Linked DNA regions of Homo sapiens. The protein of the gene in region 1 purifies or fractionates together with the protein of each later gene. This does not show direct contact. Each region holds a gene or a part of one and is shown in the gene's direction. Other genes may lie near its edges.

Region 1 (3,154 bases):
GCCGCACCACCCTCCCCATCCCCTCTCAATGAGTGCTTTGTCTTTTCCTATCGAGTCATGGAAGCTCTCTATATATTAAGGTTACCGATCATTTGTCCAACACATGATAGGTATTAACTTCTGGCCATTTGTCTTTCAGCTTTTTCTTTTTCTTTTGTGGGGTCATGTTATTATTTATTTCCTAGAAATTTAAGATGTTTATGCACTCAGTTCTGCCACCCTTTTCTTTGTATCTTTTCTGGGTTTTAGCCCCTGCTTTCCTTTCCTTCCCTTCCTAGTTTTATTTTTTTTTTAAGTCTCCTCTATTTTTTCTTCTGTTTTTCTTTTCTTTCTTTTTTTTTTTTTTTTTGAGACAGAGTCTCACTCTGTAGTTCAGGCTGGAGTACAGTGGCATGATATCAGCTCACTGCAACCTCCACCTCCCGGGTTCAAGCGATTCTCCTGCCTCAGCCTCCCAAGTAGCTGGGATTACAGGCGCCCGCCACCACGCCCGGCTAATTTTTGTATTTTCAGTACAGACAGGGGTTTCACCATATTGGCTAGGCTGGTCTCGAACTCCTGACCTCGTGATCTGCCCGTCTCGGCCTCCCAAAGTGCTGGAATTACAGGCGTAAGCCACCGCGCCCAGGCTTTTCTTCTGTTTTTCTAGTGTTGTTTTAGGTTGACAGCTTTAGTCCAGCTGGAAGTCCACTGGGGTGGACATGTGAAGTTTAGGGTCTTAGTGGTTTCCTGTCTGTTTCAAGCCATCAGCCCTGTTTCTTGCTCTTGGCGATTTGAGCCGGGAGCTGGTGAAGGAGTTGGATCAGGGGCCCAGGGAATCTGGGAAGAACAGCTAACGTGGCTGGGAGCGGTCCTGGAAGGCCAGGGAAAAGCTGGGAGAGCTGGAGAAAGCCAAAGAGCAAGGGCAGGGAGGCGAGGGAGGGAGGAGGTGGCGTGGACTGGAGGAAGGACGGAGAGGACCCAGGCCCCAGGTCCCCACCCACCCCTCCCTCGGGCGTCCTGCCTAGCAGCCCCCGGGACACCGCTCATGAATTGTCACTCAACCCAGAGGAGTGGCTAATGGTGGCCTTTGGGTGCCAATGGCCAATTAGTGGTGGGAAAAGGAATCTTCCAGCATCCCCGGGGGGCCGGTCTCCCTCTCTCCCTATTCCTGCATCATCTGATTTGTTCTGGGTAAGGTCTGAATAGCAGCAGGGATTTGGGGCCCTTCTGCCTGGGTTCAAATCCCAGCAATGCCACTCAGCAGCCGCGTGACCTGGGCCAGCTCCTTAACCTCCCTGGGCCTCATTTTCCTCCCCTATAAAATAGGTAGTAATAGGCACTCCTTCCCCGGGGCCTTGGGAAGCAGCAGTCAGCACCTGGATAATGTGTGCAGCGGGCCAGCCCTGCCAGAAGAGCCGCCCAGGGATTCTGTAATTAAATTAGACTCACTCTAATTCCACTGGATTCACTCATCTGCACGAAGGGCTGAGAACGGTGCTGGGCCCTTGCGAGTGCCGTCCAGGTGGCGGCTGTTGTCATGATTACCTCCCACCTGCCCTTTTGTGTATGACACTCTCCTGGCCCCTCACATCAGCCCTGCGCCAGCCGAGCTGGGGCCCAGAGAGGGAGAGCGGCTGCCCTGAGACTCAGCAGCAGGAGAGTCAGGGAGGTGGGGACCCTGGGTGAGACCCTAGGCTGTCAAAGCCCATGCCCTGGCAGGTCCTTGGGGAGGAACGTGGGTCGTGCGGTCAGCTTTGCTGTGACTCCTCCCACAGTAGCTGCTCCTGGTCCCTGGACCTGGTGACTGGGACCAAAGGCTTCTTGTCCGGGCGGGATGGGGGAGGATCCGCACAGCCTCCAGCCAGCACACACTGACCCCGGGAGGTGCGGAGCCGGGGAGAGGCAGGCAGGAGGGAGAAGCGGATGGAATACCACTCGCTGCTACTAACTTGTGAAACATTTCATTAAATGCCCTCTTAATCAAGAGTAACCACACCAGCAGTGAAGCATCTTGGGAGTCTGAGCACGTATGTGTATGGTAGGGGAGGCCTGGCATGAGACCCCGGGGATGGGCAGGGCAGAGTTGAGGTGGGGCGGGGACAGCAGGAGGGAGAGAGTAGGATGGGGGCACAGAGCCGGCCTAGAGGGGTGAGGGTGCCGCCAACTCCCTCCCATCCACTAAGCCAGCGCTGGGTAAGCACCATTGTGCCAGGCCCCACCCCAGGCACTGGGGTCAGCAGTGGCTAGGTCGGACATGCCACTGTCACGGGAATTCCGCACTGGTGGGGAAACTGACAAGATAGGCAGCCGGGACCCTGAAAGATAAATACCCACAGGGGCACATGTGTTGGCAGAGGAGGTCCTCAACGCCGACAGGAGGTCAGGCAGCCTTCCAGAAATGAATAGAAGGTAACCAAGTGAGGAGGAGTAGGGACAAGCATCCTGGCAGAGGGAACAGCATGTGCAAAGGCCCAGAGGCCAGGTATAGGAAAATGCGAACACAGATCCTGTCTGTCTGGCTCTGGCTGGAGTCTGGGTAAGGGTGCTGTCACCCCCACCTCCTCCCGCCTCCTGCAGTCTTCCCACCAGCTCAGAGCCCCAACGTTTGAAAAGCATCACAGCTCCACTTAAAGGGAACAGAGAAAACCAAACATGAAAACTGTCGGTCCTCAGTGGCTTGCCCAACACAGGCCTGCAGGAAGAAGGAAGTAGCCCAGGGCTGATTGCACGCACTTGGTGGTTGTCCCTTTCTGTCCCCAACTGCATGAGCTCAGCTGTCATTTATCATTTCTCCCTGGGGAGTCGCTTCCTACGCCCCTCAGCTTCTCCCACCATTTTCCCCCCAACTTCAGGGCTCAAGAGGATCCACGCCCTGACCACACAGGCTGCCTACGAGCTGCACGTGGACCTGGAGGACTTTGAGAATGGCACGGCCTATGCCCGCTACGGGAGCTTCGGCGTGGGCTTGTTCTCCGTGGACCCTGAGGAAGACGGGTACCCGCTCACCGTGGCTGACTATTCCGGCACTGCAGGTGAGGCTCCAGCTGTGGCAGGGATGGGGAAGGGGGGCGGCCTGGGAGGATGGAGGACGGAGGAGGTCCTGCCCTCCAAAATGATCAAGGCTAATGTATTTTTCCCCCTTTGAAAGTAATCAGGTTTTTGAAAAATAACA
Region 2 (3,500 bases), on another chromosome or scaffold:
GAATCAGTCTGCTTGGGGACACCGGCAAGGGGCTCTGGATTCTTACCCCCTCCCTTGGCTTCCTGCTGGCAGGGCTGTGGTGCCTGGAGCTGGTGTCCATTCCCTCGGGCCCATTGTCTGACCTCCCTAGGCACCAAGGTGCAGTGAATAATTAATACTCCCCTCAGCTGGGGGCAGGCTCAGGGAAATAGCTCTATGTTCAGTGAGCTTCTGAACCCTACCAGAGGAGGTGGGGGCTCCTGTCTGTGCTGTTAGCAGTCTTGGATATGGGGGGGCAGGCAGGATAGGACAGGGAGAAAGTGTCATCTGGCCCCCAACAGGAGAGAGCTGGGGTTGATGATGTCCTGTCTCTTCTGTTGGGGGCCAGATGGTCCCACAGGCAACACTGGGAACCAAGCTAGCTGAGCTAGGATCAAGTGGGCCTCTGATTCCAGAGAGGTGGTGACGGGGAGGAGTAAGGGGGAGGGTACAGGGCAGAAAGGGGTGGAGGGGAGGCCCTTGAGGACTGGAGTAACCAGGAAGGCTTTGTCAGGGAGGTGGCTGTCTGGGCAGGAGCTAGAGGAAACTTGCTGCAAAGACGGGGGGTCCTGACATCCCTCCAAGAAGGAATCCTGGCTGTGCCACCGCCTCACTGAGAGCATGGGAAAGACACATGATCCCATCAGGCCTCCATTTCCCCCTTTGTGAAATGACGGTTGTGATGTCCACTTCTCAAGGCTGTTAAGGATCATCTTGAGGTCCCATGTGTGAAACACACGGCACTTTAGGCACTCAACAAGGGGGTGCCTCATCATGAGTGTGAGCTAGTGGGCTAGTGGCGGGGCAGGTGGGATAGCGTGGTAAGCCGAGAGGTAGGGAGAACTTGGGGCGAGGAGGATGGCTTGGTGGGGTTAGTGAGGGGTGAATGCCCATATAGGAGAGGGCCTTGAATGTTAGACAGAACTCACATTTCAGAAAGCTTAATGGAGCCCCCATTTAGAAGCCTCTGTGGCTCCTTACGGCCTGTAAGATGAAGACCAGGCCCTAGTTATGGCATTCAGGTCCTTGGTCACCTTAGCCTCTGCCCGGCCTTCTGGCTCATTGCTCTGCACTGTCTCCTAAACACACCACATGTGGCCCCATCACAGCCCCTTTGTTTGTGGTTCCTCCCATCAGAACCGCCATCCCTGCCTCTGCTCCACTTACCTCCCCACCTGTCAAGACCTGACTGAGGTCATAAATTCCCTCAGAAACATTCCTGGATTACCCAACCCTCTGGTCATGCCCCCTCTGAATCTTTAACATTCAGCAGTAATAGTAAAAAATAATACCTACTATCCATAACATTTTGCAGTTTGTAAAATGTATCCACACAATACTACAGTGATGATATCAACAACAGCTGATATCTTGAGTACTTACTATGAGCCAGACAATGTGCTAAATGTTTTATAGACACTCTTGTTCACACAAACTCCCTGAGGTAGCTACTGTTATCCCCTAGAAACTGGGGCTCAGAGAGGTACCTGATCTTGCCCGAGGTCACACAGCTCAAAGGTAGGGAGCAGGGAGCCAAGCTGCATCTGTTTGAATTGTAAATCTGTGCTTAGAAGATGTCCTGTCTCCTCACCTCCACCCAAGTACCTTGAAAGCATACTTTGTGTGTAAAAAGCCTGGACAAGGTTTTTTCTCAAGGCTAAGGAAGGGCAGTGTTGGACTGAGCATGGGGCCCAGGAAGGACCTGGGCCCTAGGCCGTGCACAGGCTGGCTGGTTGTCTGTGTGACCTGGGGTGAGTCGGCCCCTCTCTGGGGTCCCGTGTGTCCATGTCTATGGGGAGCAGGGTGGGTTCTGAGCTCCCCTGTAGCTCCAGCTTTCTACATCGTCTTTCGTGACCCTGGAGGGAGGAGGAGGAGACCACAGCACCAGGGCCAGAGGATGTGGTATGACGGGCAGCTGTGATTTTTGGCCTGGCCACTGTCTGGGCCAGCAGGCTGTGTGGGTAGCTGCCTCGCCCAAAGGAGGGTGGTGGCCTGAGCTGCAGGCAGCATGGTCATTAGCTGGCAGAGGAGACCCTGTGATTGGGAACTGGCTGGGCCAGGCCAGGCCAAGTTGGCGGGACTGGAGGCAGGCTGGCCGGGCCACAGCGGGGTCACTGGCAGGGCAGCCAGCTTCTCCTCCCTTTGCCCCCTTTGGGGTGGTGGCAAACACACACTGGGCACCAGAGCTTTGTAGGCCAAGGCTTACCCTTTCTCCTGCTGTGACCATGGGAAAGAGCAGTAAGGAGTTCAACCAGGTCCAAAGATGCTGCCTGCTATAAGCTTCCAGTACTCCTCCCATGCAGGTGGGATCCAAGCCTCCTCTGCTGCTGATTCATGGCCCTCTGCACACTGACTGTGGTCTGTGGATTGGGGTTCTGCTTGGTCTGCTTCCCTTGCTGGCTTGTCAAAACTAGATTCTATGTGCCCCCACCGAATCCTCCCCTCCCTCTGAGTGCCTAGCAGTGTGCCTGGCACAGAGCCACACCCTCCGGGCCAGGGGAGGCAGTGCAAGCTGCCCCATGGACAACTTGCTCAACTTTTGCACCTCTGTTTTTTCCCTGTACATTGGGGCTGATAATAACTGTTATTAAATGAGATGAAGGAAGTGGGGTGCCTGTCCAGGCCTGGCACACAGGTGGGTACTCCATCAGCATGAGTCTTCTTGCCCATCCCCTCGATGGCTTCGTGAACGAGCAACTCAGTAAGAAGCTGATGGAAGAGTCCAGTGAGTGATGGCTGGAGGGAGGGCGTGCCAGATGGCAGGGAGGCCTTCCCTTAGGGGGACTTAGCTGGGGTTTGCAGATTCACAGTTCCCACCACCTTCCCTGTGAACAGTGGTGTGTAAGCAGGTGCTGTTGGCCTGGAAGGGTCCCGAGCTAGGTTCAGGGGAGGGAGCAGGACTGGGATATCTGGGGACTTGGGTTTTCTTCTCAGGCCTACGCAGAAGAAATGACCCAGGTGGGAGAAGCCGTCTGGCGTCCAGCTAGCAGATGCTGGGCAGAGAGTGTGAGTTCTTCCTTAAAGGGAAGCAGCATTTATTTGGTGCTGCTCACACACACATCCAACCGAAATGTAACATGGTTGGAGATTCTGGTCTGTGGGGGAAACAGCATTAGACAAGGAAACACACAGATGCAAAACTTCCAAATTGTGAGAAGCAGGCTCCTGAGGCAGGGGCCGGTCCCATCAGTATCTGTGGCTGGTGGCACAGGGTAGGGCTAAATGACTTGGGCAAGTGATTTAACCTCTTTGGGCTTTAGTTTCCCCATATGTAAAATGGGGATAATTACAGCATCTTCATCATAGAGTTGTGAGGGTGAAATGAATTATACGTGTAAAGCACTCAAAAAAATGCCCAGCACATAATGAGCACTCAGTGCAGGTTAGCTGTTATGATCTGTATCTCCAGCACCTCACAGAGGATCTTAGAGAAAACAGGTGCTCAGGAAAGGCGTTTGGAATGAATCCCAGGCAAAGGGCAG

Evidence for each region. The genes of interacting proteins can lie anywhere in the genome.
Region 2: the proteins of FIBCD1 (region 1) and GDPD5 purify together in Homo sapiens (co-immunoprecipitation; one large-scale study listed by IntAct). This does not show direct contact.

Annotation. Positions count from the first base shown.
Region 1 is NC_000009.12:130,905,094-130,908,247, reverse strand, and holds part of FIBCD1 (fibrinogen C domain-containing protein 1), read left to right. Parts: intron 1-2,834; coding exon 2,835-3,014; intron 3,015-3,154. UniProt on the Homo sapiens protein: Acetyl group-binding receptor which shows a high-affinity and calcium-dependent binding to acetylated structures such as chitin, some N-acetylated carbohydrates, and amino acids, but not to their non-acetylated counterparts.
Region 2 is NC_000011.10:75,519,442-75,522,941, reverse strand, and holds part of GDPD5 (glycerophosphodiester phosphodiesterase domain-containing protein 5), read left to right. Parts: intron 1-1,084; exon of another isoform or gene 1,085-3,500. UniProt on the Homo sapiens protein: Glycerophosphodiester phosphodiesterase that promotes neurite formation and drives spinal motor neuron differentiation.